Homo sapiens: one gene and its partners. The protein of the gene in region 1 purifies or fractionates together with the protein of each later gene. This does not show direct contact. Each region holds a gene or a part of one and is shown on either strand. Other genes may lie near its edges.

Evidence for each region. The genes of interacting proteins can lie anywhere in the genome.
Region 2: the proteins of WWC1 (region 1) and AMOTL1 purify together in Homo sapiens (affinity purification with mass spectrometry; 2 studies listed by BioGRID and IntAct, with this or other methods). This does not show direct contact.
Region 3: the proteins of WWC1 (region 1) and PATJ purify together in Homo sapiens (affinity purification with mass spectrometry; 2 studies listed by BioGRID and IntAct, with this or other methods). This does not show direct contact.

Annotation. Positions count from the first base shown.
Region 1 is NC_000005.10:168,427,019-168,434,906, reverse strand, and holds part of WWC1 (protein KIBRA), read right to left. Parts: intron 6,875-7,888; coding exon 6,766-6,874; intron 6,201-6,765; coding exon 6,120-6,200; intron 4,771-6,119; coding exon 4,684-4,770; intron 3,656-4,683; coding exon 3,463-3,655; intron 1-3,462. UniProt on the Homo sapiens protein: Regulator of the Hippo signaling pathway, also known as the Salvador-Warts-Hippo (SWH) pathway.
Region 2 is NC_000011.10:94,868,957-94,876,844, forward strand, and holds the end of AMOTL1 (angiomotin-like protein 1), read left to right. Parts: intron 1-241; coding exon 242-517; intron 518-1,732; coding exon 1,733-1,839; 3' UTR 1,840-7,792; downstream 7,793-7,888. UniProt on the Homo sapiens protein: Inhibits the Wnt/beta-catenin signaling pathway, probably by recruiting CTNNB1 to recycling endosomes and hence preventing its translocation to the nucleus.
Region 3 is NC_000001.11:61,759,081-61,766,968, forward strand, and holds part of PATJ (inaD-like protein), read left to right. Parts: intron 1-3,777; 5' UTR 3,778-3,812; coding exon 3,813-3,834; intron 3,835-3,932; coding exon 3,933-4,099; intron 4,100-7,198; coding exon 7,199-7,393; intron 7,394-7,888.

The sequences.
Region 1 (7,888 bases):
ACGGTTGTAATGGTGAACCATGGGACGTCAGTGGGGCCTGAGAAGCAGGCTAGCTCGAGAGAGCCCGGGCTGGGTGGCATTGAGCTCAGCAGTAGAGCAGTGGGCAACTAGGCTCCCTGTGATGCCATGCAGGGCATTTGGTGGAACTGTTGCCTGCGATATTGGGAAGGTGGGCTGTGTATTCCTCCAAACCTGTAATCTGGGTCTGGGGACATGAGAGACACTCATAGTAACCCCCTGAGAAGTAGCATGGTGAGATGGCTACACATAAGGAAGCTGGAGTCTCTGTTCAAATCCAGGCTTTGCCATTTTCTCCTTGGATGACCTGGCAGCTTACTTAGCCTTTCTGGGCCTTGATCCCTTATCTTCCTGGGGCCATCACGAAGATTAAATGAGATACTGCACATGAAGTTCTTAGCCCACTGGTAGACACATAGACTCAACTCAGTACAGATGCTGTTGCTGCCTGGCTGAAAACAGACTGGGGATTCCACACATCCTGCTGTCCGGAGTCTCTGCGTGGGAGAGGACAGGCCTTTTTCCTCCCATCTCACTTCCTCTCCTCCTCCAGCCACCAGAATACGACAGCCTGACACTCCATGTCCCCACCGTATATGGGAAAGGAGGTTTCCCATTGGCCGCAGGCAGAGACAAGCCACAGTGAGATGAGCGCTTTGGCTGCTGCCATGGCAACCAGCAATGACCAGACTTCAATTAGGAAGGAGGAATAAAAGGCATCCAATTAGGAGAAGAAAATAGGATTGAGCCTCTTCTCGCTTAGGAATGCCCAGGGCCAAGGGAATGCTTCGCTGGAGGAGCCCAGGCTTGCCAACCCCTTCAAGTCACCACCCCCATCTCTGGGCTCCAGGGAGCCCTGTGCTGGCAAAGAGACAACACAGAGGCGCTGACGTGTGTGGACTTCAGAGGGAGACCTGCTGGGGTTCAAATACGGCTTCTGCCACTTTCCTAACTGTGACAGGAAAGGTCTTTCACCTCTTTGTGCCTCAGTTTCTCCACTGGAATACGCTACCTATTTTGCAAGGTTGGAGTGAGGATCAATAGAGATAATGGGCTGGGGTGGTGGCTCACACCTGTAATCCCAGAACTTTGGGAGGTGGAGACAGGCGGATCACTTGAGGTCAGGAGTTCAAGATCAGCCTGGCCAACATGGCAAAACCCCGCCTCTACTAAAAATACAAAAATTAGCCGGGTGTGGTGGTGGGCGCTTGTAGTCCCAGCTACTCTGGAGTCTAAGGCAGGAGAATTGCTTGAATCTAGGAGGTGAAGGTTTCAGTGAGCCAAGATCACGCCACTGCACTCCAGAGACTGAGAGCAGGACTCAGTCTAAAATAAAAAAAACAGATAATGCATGTAAAGAGCTTAACTCAGTGCCTGCCATATAAACTGCAACCTACTGGTATTAACTACTGCATTATTGTCAGTAACAACATCAATAGCAGTGATGCTGTGTTGTACCCAGCTAAGAAGGAGAGATGGGAACCGATATCCAGTGAGCACAAACTGCAAACACTTTGCTGCTCTACATTCTTGCTACCCAAAGTGTGATCCAGGAACCAGCAGCATTGGCCTCACCTGGGAGCTTATTAGAAATGCAGAATCTCAGGTTCTGCTCCAGACTTGCTGAATCAGAATCTGCATTTAGCCAGAGCTCCAGGTAACTTGTGTGCATGGCACAGTTTGAAGCGCTGCTTCAGCGCCTTAGTTAGTCTTCAGAGAACCACCTCCAGGAAGGCAGTATGAGCCAGATTTTACAGATAAGGGAACTGAGACTAAGAATTGAAGACTGTGAGGAGACACAGCTGGAAGGGCAAGGCTGGTGACAGCCCCAGGCCACAATCCAAGGATGTGGCCCCACAATGCCATGATAGAGAAGGGTTTTATAGCGCATGCAGATCAAGGCAAGGATGGAGAGCAAAGAGATTCCCTTCTCTGGGCAAAGGTCTGTGATTTACAGCAGGAGAAAGGGGCGAGCCCTCCAAGAAGGCAGTGAGAGGCTCTACATTCCAGCTTCCAGAAATGGAGGCAGGAGAGGCTCGGAGAGGTGTATACATCTTGTTTTTCCCCTTTGCACATACCCCACATTTTCCTCCATCACTTCAACCCATCCATTTCCAACACGGCCCTCCTCACAGTTTGTTTACATCTTAGCCATCAATGCTGGCACCTTGTCTGTTTGGTTCCCCATTGAATCCCCAGCCCCAGACACAGGGGTGGGGACACAACAAGCTCCCAGTACAGATCTGAGCATGAGTGGAGCGACCTTCTAGGTATAATGCCCACACTTGGGCTCCTTTGTGCCCACAGTTGAGTTATCATTAAAATATTCTAACACTAAATGGCATCAGGGTTAACAAAGCCCTTTACTTCTTCTAATTCACTTGTACATCACAAGCCCGAGTTAGCTATTATATAAATCCCCCTTCTACAGATGGGAAAGCTGAGTATCTGTCTGCACTTGGGTCTGCCTGTCTCTTAGGACAAAATGTACTTGGGCTACTTCATCCCCAGTCCTGACTCCTGCCAATGCAGTGAGAGATGGAAGCCGGAGAAGGTCAGTTTCAGGGAGGAGGCTGGCAATGGCCCCACTAAACGAGAACCCACTGTGGATCAGACACTTGAATAGGTGTTTTACGGGTGCTATCTCAATCCTTATAAAGATTCTTCCAGTGGGCATGATGGAGGCATTATCATTTGCATTTTAGGGATAAGAAAAATGAGGATCAGAGATGTTAAGTACCTTGCCCAAGGTCATCCAGCTATACAGCAAGTGGTAAAGGTGGGATGTGAATGCCTATGTGTTTGCTTTCATTACTCTGTGCTTTTTTTTTTTTTTTTTTTGACACAGGGTTCTGCTGTTGCCCAGGCCAGAATGCTGCGGCATGATCAGCTCATTGCAGCTCAAGGGATCCTCCCATCTCAACCTCCAGAGTAGCTAGGACTACAAGCATGCACCACTATGCCTGGCTAATTTTATTTTTTGTAGAGATGGGGTCTTGCTGTGTTGCCCAGGCTGCTTTCGAACTCCTGCACTTGAGTGATCCTCTGGCCTTGGCCTCCCAAAGGGTTGGGATTACAGATATAAGCCACCACACAGCCATAGTCTGTGCTTCTTATCTAATCTCTCATGCTGTATAGTAAAGCTGCAGTATGTGGCTTTTTCCAGGTTCTGGCAGTTTTAAAAGGCACTTTCAGGTCCATTACTCTTCCTCTTGTGAAAGAGCTCCTTCCCTCCCACCCTAAGTCTGAGAACAACATTCACCTGTGGAAGCCTCGCTGCCTAGAATCCAAGATGAGCCTGATTGATAGCACAACCTGCGTCTCCTTCGAACCTTCTTCCTGAAGCTCAGGGTAGACCAATCCCCATAAACACAGAAGGCCGGTCAGCCAGCCAGCCAGCCAGCCAGCCAGCCAGCCAGCCAGCCAGCCAGACACGGCCCTTACCAGGCACTCTTCCAGATGGCTCCTGTCGGTGGTACAGACATCGACTCTTAAGGTCTTCTGGTGAAGGGCTGGATAGGACATGGATACCCAGAACACCTCATTGAACACTAGAGTGTCTGAGGCGTCCAGAGGCCGGGTCCGGAACAGGCAGGTTGTGCTTTCAGAGCAAGGAAGGACAGCCACGCGGATATTCCTAGAGGGAGACAGAACCGCAGGAAATCTTGGGTCAGCCCATGTCTGGGGCTAAAATGTTGGACTAAACAGCTGCTGAAATCCCTAAGCAAACAACAGTGGATGAGAGTTTGTAGAAGTGAGGAATCTGGGGAATCAGGCCCCTATACACTGGAAGGAACTTTGACAAATCGAACAAAATTCCAGATGCATTTGTCCTTTGGTCCAGACCCTTCACTTCTAGGCATTATCCCACAGATGCCCCTGCATGAGTACCAGTGAGCTATGGAGGAGGCTATTCAGCCTGGCACTGTCTGTGTGGGCAGAAGACTGAAATTGACCCAAGCATCCCATCTTGTCTTCCTTCCGTTTTGTCCGCCTTCCTGCCCTTTCTTCTTCCCACATGTGCCACCCTCACAGGCTGGCTGAGTGTAGACCACAGACACATAAGCTTCTGTTGCCACCCTCCAGGCCTTACGATCAGAGAAAACTTGGAGGCAGATGAGTGCAATAAAGGATAAACCCATCTACCATGGGAGGAGCCCACAGGCAGACAGAGCAGGTGTTTGCATCCTACCAGCATCAAGGTAACACGCAGTCACACCCCTCCAAGAGAAGCAGTGACTGGTGTTGACTCTTGGAAACAGAAGACCTATCTCTCTCTGCAAGAAACACTTGAGCTTAGGAGAAGATAAAACAGACTGTGACCATTCTTCTCCATGAGGCTCAAAGTCCAGGAGGGTAGGGCCCAGGAAGGATCTGCTCACCACCCCATTCCTAGAGCTGGCATGCAGCAGGTGCTCAGCACGTAATGGGGCAGGAATTCACACAGTCATCTAGAGAGTGCTTGTCTTTACAGTTGGTGTGCTTGCCGTTGTGCCTGTATTCACATGCACAGCACCGACATTCAGCATCACAGTCATATGCAGTACAAACCCACAGTGCCTTGACAAGGCCCATAACTGGATCAGGACAGGGCAGAAAAGTGACCCCCAGGGGTAACTCCAGAGGGTTAGGGTATGAAATACACCTGTCCAGCTACATACTCACACTTTCTGGTCTTGTTGCTGCAACAGAGCAGAAAGGTTACTCAGCTGGATGATTAATATTGCAAATTGCTTATTCTTCTCATCATACCTGAAATGAAAAGGGGCATATGAAGTACCTATTAGTAACACACTCATCTCTCTCATTCCTTCTCTCCATTAAAAGTCACAGGACGTGGCTGTTGGCTGCCCTGGGGCCTATGGTGAGCTCTAGAGCACAGGCCCAGTGCTTTGCTGCCATGCAGGGATGTAGAGCTAGAGCTGCCAATTGTTTGAAAATTTTTTTTTTGTTTTGAAACAGGGTCTCACTCTGTCATCCAGGTTGAGTGCAGTGGCATGATCGGGGCTCATGGTAGCCTCGACCTCCCAGGCTCAGGTGATCCTCCCACCTCAGCCTCTCAAGTAGCTAGGACTACAGGTGTTCACCACCACACCCAGCTAATTTTGTGTATTTTTAGTAGAGATGGGGTTTCATCATGTTGCCTGGGCTGGTCCTGAACTCCTGGAATCAAGTGATTCCTCTGCCTCAGCCTCCCAAAGTGTCAGGATTAAAGGTGTGAGCCACCACACCCAGCCAGTTGTCTGAATTTTTAAAAAGAACCCATAAATGCGGGTGAAATTTCATGATATGGAAATGTTGTCAACTAATTCCTATTAAAAAATATTGAAGGCCAGGTGTGGTGGCTCATGCCTGTAATCTCAGCACTTTGGGAGGCCAAGGCGGGCAGATCATTTGAGGTCAGGAGTTTGAGACTAGCCTGGCCAACATGGTGAAACTCCATCTCTATTAAAAATACAAAAGTTAGCCGGGCGTGGTGGCACACACCTGTAATCCCAGCTACTTGGGAGGCTGAGGCAGGAGAATCGCTTGAACCCAGGAGGCAGAGGTTGCAGCGAGCTGAGATCACACCACTGCACTCCAGCCTGGGTGACAGGTGAGACCCTGTCTCAAAAAAAAAAAAAAAAAAAAATTGAGATCATATCATCCCCCAACAAAAGAAAACAAAAAGAACAACCATGTGTGTATTGACCCAATCTGGGCTGCAGCCCCCAGTGATCAACTTCCATCCAGATCAATGAAACCTAGATGGGATGGAAAGACAAAAGCCACAGCAACAATGAACAAACACACTGAGAGGCAGGAGGTCTCAGTCCCAGTCCTGGCTCTGCTACCAGCCAGCTCAGTGAGTTGGGCCAAGTCATAAGGTCTTTTAAAACCCCATTTCTCCAACCTCATTTCTCCTATCTGTAAAGCGGATGGCTGGGAGGTGAGGAACGAATCAGCATCCCTTCAGTTAAGAAGCTGCAATGGCCAGCAGGTCCTGCTGGTGCTGCCTTCCACCCTGGGCGGCTGTGAAGGTAAATGCTGGGGAACGCTGTGGATGAAGAAGGGACCCCACACAGACCGTTCCTTCTGTCCTCCTCGTCCTCGTCACTTACTTCAGGGCAATCTGAATTCGGGTCGCACCCACTGCTTCCGATTCGTCACTGTCAAATGCAGCAGCTTCTGAAGCACCCAGTCTGAAAGGCAACAGGGGAGGAGGAGTTAGGCTTCCCTACAGTGAACAAACTATTCTGGGAGGCTGAGGTTACATCCCCAGGAAGGAAAGTTGGGGTTTGCTCAGCTTCCCTTCAGGTCCTTTTTTAAATTTTAATTAAAAAAAATTTTTTTTAGAGATGGGGGCTCACTATGTTGCCCAGGCTGGTCTCGAACTCCTTGTATCAAGTGATCCTCCCACTGAAGCCTCCCAAGTAGCTGGGATTACAGACTCACACCACTATGCCCAGCTTGGACTCCTCTCTTAAGGGGCCTTCCCTTTCTCTAGTGCTTGCTCCTTAGCCATATACCTTTTTCGTAGCTACCACAGAACTAGCACTCCCCCAAACCTGAAGCATCTCTAACCCCAGGAAAAGTTATGCTGTCTGTGCCTTGGGCAGCCAAGAGGAAGGTGGGGTCATGCCCTCTTGGGGCTCCTCCCACACACTGTGGGGGCCAAAACCTAAGCCTCTCCACAGGCCTAGGCTCTGGATATTCAGAGTTCATGGCTTACAGGGCCACAGAGAGAGCCAGCACCCAGACACCTACCTCTGCACGGAAGCCTCGTACACACCACTGTCTCCAGCCACTGACTCGTCCGATACGGCGGCTGAGACACAGGCCACTTTCAGGCCACACCCCTGGGCCGTATTCACAGCTAGGGAAGGAAAATGGAAAGGCAGGTTCAGGAACCAGGAAACTGCCTTTGCGACTCCCAATTTTGTTTTGTTTTTGAGGCAGGGTCTCACTCATCCAGGCTGGAGTGCAGTGGCACAATCATGGCTCACTGCAGCCTCGACCACTTCGGGTTCTGGTGATCCTCCCACCTCCGCCTCCCAAATACTGGAACTACAGGCATGTGCCACCATACCCAGCTAATTTTTGAATTATTATTTTGTTGTAGAGATGGGGTTTTGCCATATTGCCCAGGCTGGTCTTGAACTCCTGGTCTTAGGCGATCTGCCTGCTTTGGCCTTCCAAAGTGTTGGGATTACAGGCGTCAGCGACTGTAATCCCAACACTTTGGGATTCGGGGAGCCTGAACTCCCAATTTTGATACACTCTCTATGGAAGACAGACGGTTCCACCAAATTCCAACCACCTCTAAATGCTAAAGCAAAAAAAAAAAAAAAAAAAAAAAATTAAAAAAAAGTTTGCTTTAGGGTGATGGAAGGAGTCACATGTGATTTTGTGTTTTACCATCCCAGGCTCTTGAGTCGAACTGCCTGGATTCAAATCCGGCTCCACCACTCACTGCTTCATGACCTTGAGATACTGACTTAATCCTGTTAAGCCTCAGATGCCTCATTTGTAAAACTTGGATAATAATACCTACTTATAGGGCTGTTGACAGGACTCAGCGAGACATTATAAGGGAAGTCCTTAATATAGAGATTGGTGCAGGCAGGCAAAGTGCTCTGCAAAACTCATTACAACTATCCTTATTGCCACTACTGTTCCTATCACTGTAGATATCCATACTTTCAATGGCAAAAACTGCAATTACTTTTGCATCAACCTAACAGATCCATCCCTACCCACCTGGGGCAAAATAACAGCCCCTGGACCCTCAGGACAGAGAAGGGAGAGATTAAGCACCCGTTCTTCCACTGCCTATCCCTTTCCACTCCGAATTCAGCTCCTCCTCTTCCCTAACCTTAACAGGGGCCCT
Region 2 (7,888 bases), on another chromosome or scaffold:
CAAAAAAAACACACAAAAAAAACCTACAATTTTTTAGGAAGGGGACTAGGTCTTCCATTTTTTATTCTCTCAGTGTTTGTTATTTTATCAGCCTTGTAATAAGTGTTTATTAAATGCTTGGGGAATGAATCAATGAATGAATGAAGCAATCATCAATCAACAAGGAACAGATCTGCAAGACTAGATTTAAAAAAAAAAAAAGGAAAAAAAGAATGTTGAAAAATCTGTTCTCTGCCCTCAGGATTGCTGCTGGGGAAGGAGCACCATGAGCATGCCTCTGCCCCACTGCTGCCACCCCCACCCACCTCAGCACTGTCCTCCATAGCCTCCACTACGGCAGCCAGCAGTGCCCACGCCAAGACAGGCAGCAAGGACAGCAGCACACAGACTGACAAGAGTGCCGAGCTCTTCTGGCCCAGCATGGCCTCCCTTCCCAGCCGCGGCCGGCTGAGCACGACCCCTGCTCACAGCCCCGTCCTGAAACACCCAGCGGCCAAAGGGACCGCAGAGAAACTGGGTATGTGGGCTACCCCACCTTGATGCCCCTGAAAACTGTGGAACTGTCTGGCCTAAGAGAATCTTTTGTTGAGCTAGAGAGGAAGCAGGGGCACCCATCAGCTCTTACTCTATGGGGATGCTATTCTAATGCACTTAGGATATGTGTGCCCTTTCTTATTACGGGAATAAATATGCATATAGACACATCTAGTTTATTACTATTTGAAATGAGTGCACGGCTTGAGACTACCCTGGCAATGCATACTTTTTAACTAACCTTTCCCCGGATGGAGTGACAACAGACCCTCTAAGGGGCTGAATGCCCTCTGGTATGTTTGGGAGCCAGAATTAGGCACCAGGTACATCAAAGGCACAAGTTCACTGTTGCCTTCAGGGCTCTAACTTACCAGGGATTCTGGCCTCAGTGGAGGACATTGTGATGGAAGGAGAAGGTAGATTGACCTGCAGAGTCGGTTAACGTGTGGCACAGCACTTGGGCCAGGACTAACGAGCTGTTTAAAATATTTACGGGAAGACAACTTGGGAGAGGTGATCTTTGCAGTGAGTCCCTAAGTGTCCTGGGTAAGAATAGACCTGGCCTCTTAAGGCACTCCTCTTAAGCAAAGGAGTACCATGGCCATGGTCAGTGGGATCCCACAAATGTTCTTAAATGGGTAAGGCTTTAAGTAGCCAGAGAGTACCCAGCCTACCATTGGCTTCTCCACATCCTAAAACCTGAGACTAATCATGGTCATGGGGACCTCCCTTTTCAGGAATTCTTTTGAGGAGGTGCAGGCTCTGTGGGCCCTAAGTTAACTGTTTCCTCCAAGGGGGTTGTTTATTTCATTTTTCAAAGTAGACAAGTAAATACAATGTTGTCACTTTTTAAAGATGTGATTCTTTTCCAAGTAAGCCAGAGAACCTGTCAAAAGTGCCTAGCTCAGAATATGCACCTGATAGTTTTGAGTAGAGGGTGTGAGGGGCTCCTGTACAGAGTCCCACTGTCATCCTCACCTTCTGAATCCTCTCCCTTCACCATCCTGGTTTGTATTTGTGTCTGAATCCTGGCCCAGTCATTCTGCATGTTCCCACTGTGGGCTGGATCATCTCACATGCCCTGTGGTGAGAATCCTGGGTGTGCAGTGGTATCGGACGTGGGTCCATTTTAGAGAACCTGGAAAGCCTATGCCCCTCCTGAGGAATGGGCAGCTGATGTTTCCCCTCTATTTGGCAGAGAACTCTCCTGGCCATGGGAAGTCGCCTGACCACAGAGGCCGGGTCAGCAGCTTGCTGCACAAGCCCGAGTTCCCTGATGGAGAGATGATGGAAGTCCTCATCTAACTGCCATCCCTGTGGAATTTCAGTACAGAACACTGACAAACAAGGAAAGCGGCAGAGAAAGAAGAAAGACCTAGAAGGTTGTAGATGGGAAATCAGGAATGATTTGAACTGATAAAGATTTCAGACTCATAAGAACACATTTTATAAATGTTAAACACAAAAACTACATGACTGAAGATAGAAGAGAATGCGATGGATTTTATTACACATGGTGGAAGAGAGAAGAGGCGTGTAGGTTTGCAAACAAAGTTAAGAAATAGGAAACTGAATTTTTCATTGTACAGAAAATGTATCTCTTGGGGAGGGCCTGTGTACCCCCATTCTCTGATTATAAACAGATAAACCCAAATGTGGATCATCCTTGGAATACCCCCATTCTCCTTGCCTCTTAGCATGTTTGATTTAAGAAAAGCCTCCAGGAAATCTTGAGAGCCTGTCTTGGCATAATGCAGTGTCACCTGTGCCAACCATGGGGTGTCCCGTGAGTGTGAGTGTGGCAGTGAGAAGAAGCATCGAGGGCGAGGGGAATATGAAAGTTGGTCTTCACCTAATTACCTGTTTGGTTTGGATTTTCAAGAGATGATTGGGCTTCTTAGCTTTTCTGAATTCTGCAGTATTTTCTAAACAGGATAGATTATGATCTCGGTCCCCATCCATCCTAACTTCTGAGTTCATCTCTGTCTCTGCTTTACAGTCTTTAATTTTTTGTTGTTCCTTCATTTTTTTCTTTTTAATAAGACATAGCAGAATTCCTTAGGTATGGGATTTATGAGACCAGTACCTGAACTGTCATCATTCCTACTGTGTTTGATAGTGACCAGTAGGACAAAGCCACGTGCCGACTTCCTGGCTGCTTCACCTTTGCATAGCTGGGTTGCAGCTGCGAACCTCATTCTGACTGTGAACTAAGCAAGCTTTGAGGAGGCAGGAGATTCCGTGGGTCCCTGTGACATATTGCATTAAGATCGTGGCACTTGCTTTTTTGTCTTTCACATCGGCTGTCTTGCAAGGAGCTTGACATTTCCAAATTCCATTGCTCTGTTTGGGGAAGACTTAGGACAGCACTCCAGGAAACAGATGACAATTTACAGACAGTTGTCTCAGTGGTTTCCAGAATCTCACCAGCCTCCCGTATAGCTTCTTGTATTGAGGCTCATGAGCGTATTCACACTCTTTCCTCCCCCGCGCACGCCTCTGCTTGCTCTCGATCAGCATCCAGACCTCCGTGGCACCAGGTTGCCTCTGTTGTGAACTTCTTTTGTAACCTACCAGGCCAGTTGTATATACAGTGTTGTCAGGTTTTTCCGGGTTTCAGTTTTGAGGCAGTTTATTCAAAGTGAGACAGAAGTGCCACGGAAAAGAGGCAGGAGTGTGTTAGGTGGTGGGTCCATTAGACCTCTGCTGTGACATTGCATATTCAGCTCTGCAGACACTGGCTTCCTTTACAAATCTAAGAGATGCTGGATTAGAAAAGAGGAGAAGCTCATCGGGCCATCAGAGAGATGCTCCTACAGGGTCCTGATGTTTTTGTACCTCCAGGTCAGCTGGATCGCTGTTTTCCCAGTTCCCTTTGCTCATGCTTACTTAGAGGAAGAAAGAAAGGGGGGTACCTCTTCCAAGTACCTTCTAAATGAAACACTCAAGAGAGTGCTACTCAGGAAACTTTGCTTGGATCCTAAAATGGACTGGTCTTGGGTGTGTAACCCCGGTGAAGTTATAGCCTCCCCAAATTGAGGTGACAGAAGGAAGACAAGAGGTGTAAGCTGGAGAGGGAAGGGAAGAAATCAGTGGCTTTGGCCAGCCTCTGTGCCACCCAGTACGACAGAGGAGTGGGAACTGGCCCTCTGGGGCTCTGCTTGGCCATAGGCACTGCACATTGTGCCACCTGCTCATCACCTCCTCTAGTCTCACACTGAGCATCGGAGTACCTGTTGTGCAGACAGGAAAACTGAGGAGCTCTGAGAGGCTGAGCATGGAGCTCACCCCATGCCATAGGGTGTGGGAAGAGGGCACAGGAGGCCTCATCCATGGGGGAAAGGGTTGAGGATGGACATGGGTGGGGAGAGGGCATAGACATCCCTTCCTAATCTCTGTTCCCACCACATTTCATAGGAGATGAGTTAGGAGATGACAGCTAACTCTCTTAAGGACATTTTGACCCCAGTTTATGTTGGGGATGGACCAGAAAGGAAAATGTCTAGAGATAGGAAGGTAAATCAACTCTGCCAGCCCCTACCATCAGGTCTGGGCCACCCCAAACTTGGGCTGCCTCCCTTAGACATAGGTTAGAGTGAGAGACCCAGCTGTTTCTCCCGAAGCCTCGTCTTCATGCCCCAGACACCTGATTGCCCCAATCAGGTGTCAGACTTGCTTGCTCTTCGAGGTCCCCCTGAGCTGCCAAGTGTTTTCATTGTAAACAGACACATCGCCATGTTTCAGGGCTTCAACGGCATTGTATTTTGGACTTTGACCGTATTTTTTTTCTCTTAACCTACTGAGACTCTTCCTTAAGAACAGGATCTATAGCTTTAAAATGTCTTCTTCTATGGGAAATTTCCTGCCAAGCCAGGGCACTAAATTCTTTCATCATTAGAGCTTTCCTGAAGTCCGGCCATATACTGAGTACCTGCTCTGAGTTCTGGGCAGCTTACAATATCTTAAACAGATTTTCAGAAAAATAATGCAACTATATTTTCTAGTGTCAACTGTATGCAAACAGTGTGGTAAATACCTTTTAATTAGTCCTCCACCCACCTGGAGTACAGGGGGTGCGTTTATTATTCTGATTTCACTGATGAGGAAATGGGCTCAGAAAGGTTAAGTCCCTTCCTGAAATCTCACAGCCAGGAGAAGCTAGGATGATTTAAAACAAAGTTTGGAGAGGCACTGGGCATAGACCCTGGCTGTACAGCCTCTAACATGCGGCACTGCATCTTGGCAGTCTCTATGCCTGTCTGTGATGTGTGTGTGCACGTGTAACTACACACACACACACACACACACACACACACACACACAGCTATCACACATCTCAGAGCCTAAGAAATAGGACTAAGCCCAGAACTCCTAGAATCACCTATAAATGCTAGGCATAGATGGAAATTATTGTGTTCCACCAGAAGCACAGCTCCAAACTATACCTAAAAAATATTTCTGCACTTCCCAGAGACCTGGACTTCAAACTTTCCCAGTGGAGCCTGATTATAGAACTTGAGGGTCCTATCTCAGGATGAAGGGGAGAGGCCCTGGCTTCACGGGAAGGTATTCCAGCATTGTTCTGCTTCACCCTTGACTGCGTTGTCTGGCAGTTTCTGTGTGCTGCCAGGATATTATATGGAACTGGAGAAGTTGGAGTCAGGTCTCTGAAGCTAGAGTTTCACTAATTAGATGCCTCTGTACATGAGAACTATTACTGTCTGCAGGTCCATATAGCTAAGCTGCCAGGAAAAACACATTATCTTCCAAAACTTTCAGAGCATGTGCAGAACCCTTTCTTAGCGTTTTCTTCTCAGCATTTTCTCTGCCTCCCAGAGGCTGGCAGCCAGTGACACTGCAGAGTTCAGCATGTTCTAACCATGCACGCAGGGCAGGGGCTGCCTTGGCCCTCCTCAGGCTTTCGTTGGGAGAGCAGGCAGTGGTGGAGCCCTTCTGGGTGCAGTCCTCTGGGGTTGCTCTTTGGAACTCATGTATGAGTTTGACTCCACAAGGCTTGGCATGGATACCAAAACAGTTGCAACAAATTAGTTCTGAACCTGGAACAGAGAATTCAGTGCTTCTGTTACTCAGGAAGGAGGTGTTCAGAATGCCCCGTGCAGAGCAGCCAGTCATTACTCTTGTTTGTTCTCACCTGGGTGCGCACCCTCATGATGCAGTGGCTGTAGCACCTTCATGCCAGGTGCTGAGAGAATGGGAAATTCTTCCTCCCCATTGACCTGAGTCCCAGAGACTTAGGGACACAGACTTCAGGTGAGGCTGCGGACCTCAGAAGCAGTGGATAATAGATTGGGGCATTAAAAGCTTTTGAGGCAGGGGGCTCATGTTTTGACTGCAGGGAGTTATGCTGAGCAAAGAGATGTGTTTTTCAAAACCAGGGTTCAAAACCAGTGTCCACGCTGGAGTAAGTGGAGCATGCTTCTCTGTGTTCTCTGAATGATCTTGCACTCCTCTTAAGCAAAGGAGTACCATGACCATAGTCAGTGGGATCCCACAAATGTTCTTAAATGGGTAAGGCTTTAAGTAGCCAGAGAGTATCCAGCCTACCATTGGCTTCTCCACATCCTAAAACCTGAGACAGCCTTGGTATATGCTTTATAAATGTTTCTTTTCTTGTTGTTTAAGTAATTAAAGTGTTTAAAATGTCTTCATTAGATGTGACGATTGTTTAATGAGTTTGCCTCTGACGTGTGGCTCCATGGGAGATAGGCAAAGTAATTAAGAAGTTACCAGAAATTGGTCGGCTGGGGAAATGCAAAAGTTAGCATTTCAGTAGTGAATTTCTCCTGGAACAAATGAGCAATTTTTCCTCTTTCTCTTAAGTAGTATACCCTTTTCTCACTTAGTAATTTAATGGTATATAAAGACATGTGTATAAGTGAGTGCATACATATGAGGTATGACTATAGGGTTGTTTGTGGGAATTTCTTTTCCTAACATACAGAAGATCAAAGTGTTCATCTCACCCCGCCCTCCTTAAAAGGTGTCTTTTGGGAGACTATGTGCTCATTGACTATAGTGCTGCCAAGTAAAAATATCTTGGGAACTCTTCTACTAGAATGGCCTTCAGGGCTTGGCATGTTCCTTTGGTTTACCCTTAGAGATGAGAAATCCTCCTCCTTTGAGGATGGATTTAAGTTCTGGAAATAATCTCAAGTGCTTGATAGCACAGTTGGATGAAAAAAGATGGCAATTAAGGTAAGTTACACCATTTTTGTTTCTAAAAAAATCCCTAAGAAATTTCTTGGAATGAGTCTTTGGCCTCAGAGCCTCTCAAAGTGTCCACTTCAAGGGGGGATCATCCTCATTAGCACACAGATTTTTAAAAATCAATTCTCTTGCCATGCCTCCTATGTGTTCACATCTCTGCATACACTACAGATATAAGTGCATAATCATTCATATAAACATCTGGTAGGTATTCTGTAAAACTGTGTTTACTTTAGTGCATGTTATTGTCATGTTATGATGTGACTGGGGTGTTTCTTTGTCATGAAACTTTGCTTCTTCACAGAATTAGAATACTGCTCTCTCTATATTGAACTACATATACAGCGTTTTCTTGTATCAGCCCCCAAAGTCTGGATGCCCGGTGTTGTGTTTACATGTGATTGTGCCTAGGAGTCTGTTCACATAGAGACACCTGTAAGTATTTATTACAAAACGGAATGTAAGCAAATATATCCACATTGGTTTTATTTGAATCAAGGTGTTTTTTTGTTTTTTGTTTTTTTTCCTTTTGAGGAGGAACAGGGAGCCTCCTCCTCCATGAGCACTTACAGAATTGTGTAAAATTCTGTGAAACAGTGGTAAGCATGGGCACCCGATTTCAGCTGTCCTGCTGCCGCTGCCCTCCAACCTGCTCTGTGTGTGTGTGTCGCTGTGCTTGGTGGCAGTGTGCCGTGCTCGTGCCGGCTCTTCCCAGCAGACTGGTATCTGGCTGTAACGTTTGACGTCTTCATATTGCCAGTCTGTATTGAGGGGTGATGTACATGGCCATACAGCCAAATGGGTCTGTGTACCAGTGTGGGGATTCCAAGAACACTGCCTGTCCCCCACAGCAAATATTGATGCTGTTGGTCAGCCAAAGATTTTCCTCTCCTTTGCTGCTTAAACTTGTGCCTTAATATTGTACATAATAAATGGATAAAATGGCAAAATGACTCTTTTCTCTCGCTTGCTCCTTTCTTCCTTAAAGAACTTATAAACTGATGCTCAATAAATGTTTCATTTCATTGTACCCCACTTAATGTTTTGCTTCAGAGGCCCTCGGCTCCCCCCTTGTGGGCCTCACGCTGACACCAACACGCAGCTCTTGACTCTGAGGAGGAAATGA
Region 3 (7,888 bases), on another chromosome or scaffold:
TCATGTTTGCTAGGAAGTCAGCTGTCATGCAGGGAATCCCCCAAGCTTGTCCAACCCAGGACGGCTTTGAATGCAGCCTGACACAAATTCATAAACTTTCTTAAAACATGATGAGATTTTTTTGCAATTTTTTTTAAAGCTCATCAGCTATCATTAGTGTTAGTGTATTTTATGTGTGGCCCAAACAATCCTCCTCTTCCAATGTGGCCCAGGGAAGCCAAAAGATTGGACACCCCTGTGGCTGAAGGAGTGAGCCACAGGCTTGCTGTTAACCCTTTCCCCCTCATCCCCTTTTCAGTACATTCAGACCTATTTCATCATTTTAATTGCTTTTTTTTTTTTTTTTTGAGACAAAGTCTTGCTTTGTCACCCAGGCTGGAGTGCAGTGGCACGATCCCGGCTCACTGAAACCTCCACCTCCTGCGTTCAAGTGATTCTCTTGCCTCAGCCTCCCAAGTAGCTGGGATTATAGGCGTCTGCCACCACGCCCAGCAAATTTTTGTGTTTTTAGTACACAAGGTTTCACCATGTTGTTCAGGCTGGTCTCGAGCTCCTGACCTCAAGTGATCCGCCTACCTTGGCCTCCCAAAGTGGTGGGATTACTGGCGTGAGCCACAGCGCCCGGGCTGATCGCTTTTGATAATTTACTTTTTCCAGGAGTTTTGCTATTAAAAATGTGGTAAATACCCTTGCACACACATCTTTGTCCCCCTTTGCCAGTTTTTCTTTCAGAGTGACACTCAGAAGTAAAAATTGTACACTCTTAGGACAACTTAGCAGTGTCAGTATACATTGTGTAAATTTTTATTTCCACCTATTTTTTCATGACATTTGGAGTATAAACTATTATTAATCTCTAATAAATCAATAAATGTCAGTTGAGATTTGGCAGTAAAAAAATGTCATCTTATTGTTTTAGTTTGCATTCTTCGATTTAGAGAGGTTGATGTGTTAATGACCAGCAGGCCGCTCTTGTCAATCCTGTTGGGCTGTATGCTGCTATATGAGAGTACAGTGCTGTCATGACTGCCCTTTTGTTATTCACAGTTACCTGTCACTGGGTAGTTGTAAGAGTTGTACAGTTGAGATGCTGAGCACATCAGAAGTGTTTTTTTGATGCTCTATTCAGCACTTCTTTTGGTATTCCCATTGAATCCAGTGAACATTTGGATGGAATACTTAGACCTTTTATCAATGTCAATGGCATCCGTTATTGGTTTTCAATATGTTTTTTTGCTTAATGATCTTGAATTAGAAGATAAAGATGTCATTCAGCCACCATATCCAGGTTGATGTAAGAAAATTTTGATTGTATAATACTTGTATTTCTTTGATGGTTCATTACAAGTGTGTATCACTAGTAAAAATGATCACTGAAAATGTCTCATTTTGGTCATAGCAAAGGGTTTTGCTAGCCTTTTGAGTTTTTAATTACGTTACATTTTAGATTAATTTCATCAAATCACTGGAATTAAGAAAACATTATCCATAGAGAATGCCACTTTGAGTGGTTTCTTTTTTCTTTTCTTTTTCTTTTTCTTTTTTTTTTTTTTTGAGACAGAGTCTGGCTTTATTGCCTAGGCTGGAGTGCAGTGGCATGAGCTCAGCTCACTGCAACCTCCACCTCCCAGGTTCAAGCAATTCTCCTGCCTCAGCCTCCCGAGTAGCTGGAATTATGGGTGAGTGCCACCACGCCTAATTTTTGTATTTTTATTAGAGACGGGGTTTCTCTGTGTTGGCCAGGCTGGTCTCGAATTCCTGACCTCAGGTGATCCACCCACCTCGATCTCTCCAAGTGTGGGATTACAGGTGTGAGCCGTGGCGCCCAGCCTGGGTGGTTTCTTTCAAGCTGTAGATGACTAGTAAGAGTCTGAGATCATTTGTACAGCTTGGGAATTTTTCTTTTATTTTTTGTTGAGATGGGGTCTCCCTTTGTCACCCAGGCTGGAGTGCAGTGGCATGATCATGGCTCACTGTAACCTCAACCTCCTGGGCTCAAGCGATCCTCTCACCTCAGTCTCCAGTGTAGCTGGGATTACAGGTACAAGCCACCACACCAGCTAATTTTTTTGTTTTTGTAGAGATGAGGTTTCACTTTGTTGCACAGGCTGGTCTCAAACTCCTGGATTCAAGTGATCCTTCTGCCTTGGCCTCCTAAAGTACTGGGATCACAGTGAGCCACTGCTCCTGGCCTGGTTCAATAAATTTTGATAAGTATATACATCTGTGTAAACCATACCCCCTTCAAGACACAATGTGTCCATCACTCCAAAAAAGCTTCCTTGAACCCCTTCCCAGTGTAGGGGAGGGAAAATAGCCTCTACCCTTCTAAGTTTTCGGTTGGGGCCCCTGTAATAAAGGGTAGATTAACAAGAGAAAAACATGTAAACTTGTTTAATATAAGTTTTATGTGACATGGGAGCCTTCATAAGGAAAGGAAGACCCGAAGAAACAGTAAAACCTGAGTGTTTTTAAATTAGGTTTGATGAAGAAGGAAGAGTTGTGGAATGTGATAGGACAGAAAGGGATATGAGCCAAGAGTAGTAAACAGGGAAAAACTTAACAAGGCCTGTTTGTTCATATTCCTCTGGGTGTTCCTCTATTTTTTTTTTTTTTAATTTTTGAGACAGGGTCTCACTCTGTTCCCCAGGCTGGAGTGCAGTGGCATGATCATAGCTCACTGCAGCCTCAACCTCTTGGGCTCAAGTGATCCTCCTGCCTCAGCCTCCTGAGCAGCTGGGACTATGGGTATGTGCCACCATGGGTGGCTGATTTTTGAATTTTTTTTGTAGAGATGGAATCTCACTGTGTTGCCCAGGCTGGCCTCAAACTCTGGGGCAGAAGTGATCCTCCTGCCTCGGCCTCCCAAAGTGCTGGGATTATAGGCATGAGTCAATGCGCCCGGCCACTCTGTCTTTTGAGATTAAGATGCTGCTATCTTCTGGGTATAGAGAGGACACCTCTCACATGAGGATCCTATGATCTGCTTCAGGGGAAGTCTTTTTTGCACCTGCTGTTTCTCAGATTCCTTCAACTTAAAATATTCAACAATGCCAAGGTGTCATATTTTGGGAGTAGCATGTTCTGAAGCCTGTCATAGTCAGTTCCCTATGACCCTGCCCCAGGTAAATTAATCTATAATTGTAGATTAGTTTTGTCAGTACTTGAACTTCATATGAATGTAATCATACAGTATGGTTTGTGCCTTTTTTGGGTCAGGTTTCTTTTTTTCCACATATCATTTTTGAGATTTATCCTTGTTGTGTGTATCAGTAATTTTTCCTTTTTATTTCTGAATATTATATACCATTTGTTTATTCATCTGTTACTAGACACTTGGGTTTTTCTAGTTTTGGGGTTTTTGTAAATAAAAATGCTGTAAACTTTCATGTGCAGGCGTTTTTGTGAGCATATATTTTCATGAATACTGAGTAAGTATTTGTGAGTGGAAGTGCTGGGTCATATAGTAAGTGTATTTTTAACTTTATAAGAAACTACCAATTTTCCGAAGTGGTTGTGATATTTTACGTTTCTCTTAGCAATGTACAATAATAGTTCCAGGCACTTCACAGCCTCGTTGAAACTTAGTGTTGTCTGTTTTTAAATTTTAGTTACCTTAGTGGGTGTGTAGTGGCACCTCATTGTGGTTATAATTTTGAATTTCACTGAGTGGAGCCTTGATAAAGAATGTTCTTGAGGTTTTCCTTAATTTTTCTACAGGATTGTAGCCATATACAATTGAAATTCATCTTTTATATTGTTAAATTTTTTCTTTAGGTGTCTTTAAGAGTGATTGAAGAGAATAATTCAAAATGCCTGAAAATCCTGCTACAGGTATACTGGATATATTGTTCTATAATTAAATTAATTATTTAAAAATGGAATCTCAAATGGGACTTAACTATTACTCTACTTATTCATCTTGACCCAAGATAAACTGCAGGTGCTGCAGGTACTTGATCGCCTGAAAATGAAATTGCAGGAGAAGGGTGACACGTCGCAGAATGAGAAGTTATCTATGTTTTATGAGACACTAAAGAGTCCTCTCTTCAACCAGATACTCACACTTCAGCAGTCCATCAAGCAACTGAAGGGTCAAGTAAGTTACCCATCAGAGTTTTACATTAATATATTATATTAATATATTCAAACCATCAAAGAAAGATAGAGGAGATAGACAAAGACAAATTATCTTTAAGGACTCAGTTCAGCAAAGAGACTGTATTGGGACCTGTAACCTATAACCTGTGGGTAGCATTGGCATAGATAATTTAGAAATATCAATAATCAATTTTTTCTTTGGTAACTGGATGTGGTGGCATGTACCGGTAGTCCCAGCAACTCAGGAGTCTGAGGTGGGAGGACTGCTTGAGCCCAGGAGTTCCAGGTTGCAGTGAGCTATGATCATGCCACTGCACTCCAGCCTGGATGGCAGAGTTGAGACCCTGTCTCAAAAAAAAAAAAAAAAATTGTGTTTGGTTTTAGAATATGGTTTTTGTACTTATTTAAGTATGTAAAGGTCAGATGCTTTGAGAATTCTCAACATCTTCAAAACTATAAAATAGTGCTTAACTTAAATATATTTTCTTTTTATTTTGAGACAAGGTTTCTCTCTGTCACTGAGGCGGGAGTGCAGTGCTGTGATCCTAGCTCACTGCAGCCTTGACCTCCCAGGCTCAAGCAATGTTCCCACCTCAGCTTCCAGAGTAGCTGGGATAGGTGTGTGCCACCACAGTTGGGCTAATTTTTAAAAATTTTATAGAGGCAGGGTCTCCCTATGTTGCCCAGGCTGGTCTCAAACTATTGGCCTCAAGCAGTCCTCCTACCTCAGCCTTCCAAAGTGCTGGGATTATAGGCATGAGCCACCTTGCCCAGGCGTATTTTCCTTATGAAGTCTTTTTTTGTGTGTGTGTGTGGTCTTTTTTTTTGTGTGTGTGTGTTATTATTATTATTTTTTTTAGTAGAGACGGGGTTTCACTGTGTTAGCCAGGATGGTCTGTATCTCCTGACCTTGTGATCCACCTGCCTCAGCCTCCCAAAGTGCTGGGATTATAGGCGTGAGCCACCTCGCCCGGCCGAAGTCTTTTATCTAACAAGAAGTGATCATGCCCTTATAGCACAATAGTCACACTTCTCTTAATTATCAAATATTTGTTGTCTTTCATGCGTATTCTGATTAGAAGTTCCTTGGAAGCAGAATACCTGGTATTTAAATATATAGTTATGTTTCTTCTACTCATTTACCACACTATCTGGATTCTTCAGGCTCTAATACATCATTATTGAATAAGGGACACATATCACCTCTTCTTAGAGGGGTGCAAATTAGCAGTTGTGGGATTTTTTTTTTTTTTTGGTGCTGAGATTGAACCAGAAATTAATTGTTTTAACTGTCCTCTTGGATTCTTTGTTTTGGGGTCAGGGATGGCAAATTACTTTTAAATCACCTATTCTGGAAGCTGAACTTGAATAGTAGCTATACCATAGATGAAATTTGGGCAGAATTTAAAACATAATTGGAGCTAATTTAGCACAGTTAAGTGAAAATTTACAAAATTTGGGAAAAAATGGTTTTTGCTGATAAACTAAAATGCTTGCCCATTAAGTATTTTGTGAGTGATTTGTTTATAGCCAATTAAGGATTAAATTCTACATGTGTCTTTCTGTGAATTGCTTTCTTTAGACCAGAATTTATACCCTAATTTTAGCACTGCCTATATTGATGTTTAGCTTTCTGTATTTCTCTTGGTCACAGAATATCACAATAGTGAATGCTGTTGGTAGCAACTGAAATTGGCAAAGATCAGCAGAAATCTATCACACTTGTTGGACTAAGAGTGGCTGTAACTACCCTATCCTAATAACAATTCTTTATATTTGTATAGTTTGGAGTTGTTATGTACACAGTCATATTTTATGCATTGGACTGTATAATCCCTGTAGCCAGGGGTTTTTTATTTTTTCTTTGAGGTTTTATTGACATTCATTTTTTTTTTTTTTTTTTTTTTTTTTTTTTTTTGAGGCAGAGTATTTGCCTGGGCTAGAGTACAGTGGTGTGATTATGGATCATTGTAGCCTCAACCTCCTGGGCTCAAGCAATCCTCCCACTTCATCCTCCCAAGTAGCTGGGCCTACAGGCATGTGACACCATGCCCAGCTAATTTTTGTATTTTTTGTTGAGACAAGAGTCTCACTATGTTGCCCAGGCTGGTCTTGAACTCCTGGCCCTGAAGCAGTCCTCCCACCTTGATCTCCCAAAGTGCTGGGATTACAGGTGTGAGCCATCACACCCGGCCTAACATTTATTCTGTTTTTTTTTTTGGAGACAGAGTCTTGCTCTGTCATCCAGGCTGAGTGCAGTGGTGCAATCTCGGCTCACTGTAGCCTCCACCTGCGGGATTCAAGCAATTCTCTTGCCTCAGCCTCCCAAGTACCTTGGAATTACAAGTGTGTACCACCATGCCCGGCTAATTTTTGTATTTTTGATAGCGATGGGGTTTCACCACTGACATTTATTCTTAATGTTACCTTTATTCTACTGTTTTGGCAGTTGTATCAGCCAATGATATTTTAAATTATGTCCACCATAATTACATGATTCTCCTCTTTCTATCAATGTTTAAGTGGCTCCGTGACTCACTGCTAATCTTGAGTAAGTTACTTAACCCCTGTGTGCCTCGGTTTTTAGGCTCACAAAATGGGATAATGATATCTCATTAGATTGTTGTAAGAATTAAATGATAATACCTGCAATCATGCTGGTATAGTACTTACTCATAGCAAGCACTCAATAAGTACAGTTATTATCATTATATACTACCTGTGGATCTTTTGTTGCTCCCCACGTGGAATTGTACAGATAAATGGAAAAAGGTTTAGTGCCTTACACTGTTATGTGACTGGATGCATCTGTATATGTGAAGTGTAAAAAGATGTCAGTGTACATGCTGTTAACTTGGACTAGTGGTAGAAGGCAGGAAATAAGAACAAATTTTAAGCTATTAAACATTTTGTGTAATACTAAATTTAAAAAATTTTTAGCCTTGTGAATACACAGATTTGATCTATCTTTACCTTATTTCTTTTCCATGTATATATTTAATGTGCAAAGTATCTATGTAATGGTCAAAATATATTTAATAAATAGAAACAATTTTTCTATAGATTTCTGTTGATTCTTTTTTTTTCTCTCCAACAGCTCAACCATATACCCTCAGATTGTTCAGCCAACTTTGATTTTTCTAGGAAAGGTTTGTTAGTGTTCACAGATGGTTCCATCACTAATGGAAATGTCCACAGGCCCTCTAATAACTCGACTGTATCTGGGTTATTTCCGTGGACCCCGAAGTTGGGAAATGAAGACTTTAACTCAGTCATTCAACAGATGGCTCAGGTAAAGTTGTATCTTCTCATGGAAATATTTAGCTTCATTTCTCCTGTTTTAGTTTTACAAAGGAGCTTATACTCATTCTTTTTGCTGTAAAATGTATTAGTATGTATTTTGCTTGCTTCTATTTTTATATTGTTAGGAGAAACTGACACCATTTTCTAACCTGTGTGTTGAAAATTTATTGACTTAAAATTACATAAGGAAAGTATCCATGTATGTGGTAAGGAGAGCTTTTTAAAAAAAAATTAACATTTATTTTTTGAGATAAGGTCTTGCTAAGGAGAGTTTTTAGACAATGACTAATTGAACACATCTCTATTCTTGTTAAAATAAGATTTTTGGCCAAGCGCAGTGGTTCACACCTGTAATTGCATCACTTTCTGAGGCCGAGGAGGGTGGATCACTAGAGGTCAGGAGTTTGAGACTAGCCCGACCAACATGGCAAAACCCTGTCTCTACTAAAAATAGAAAAATTAGCCGGGCGTGGTGGCAGGCACC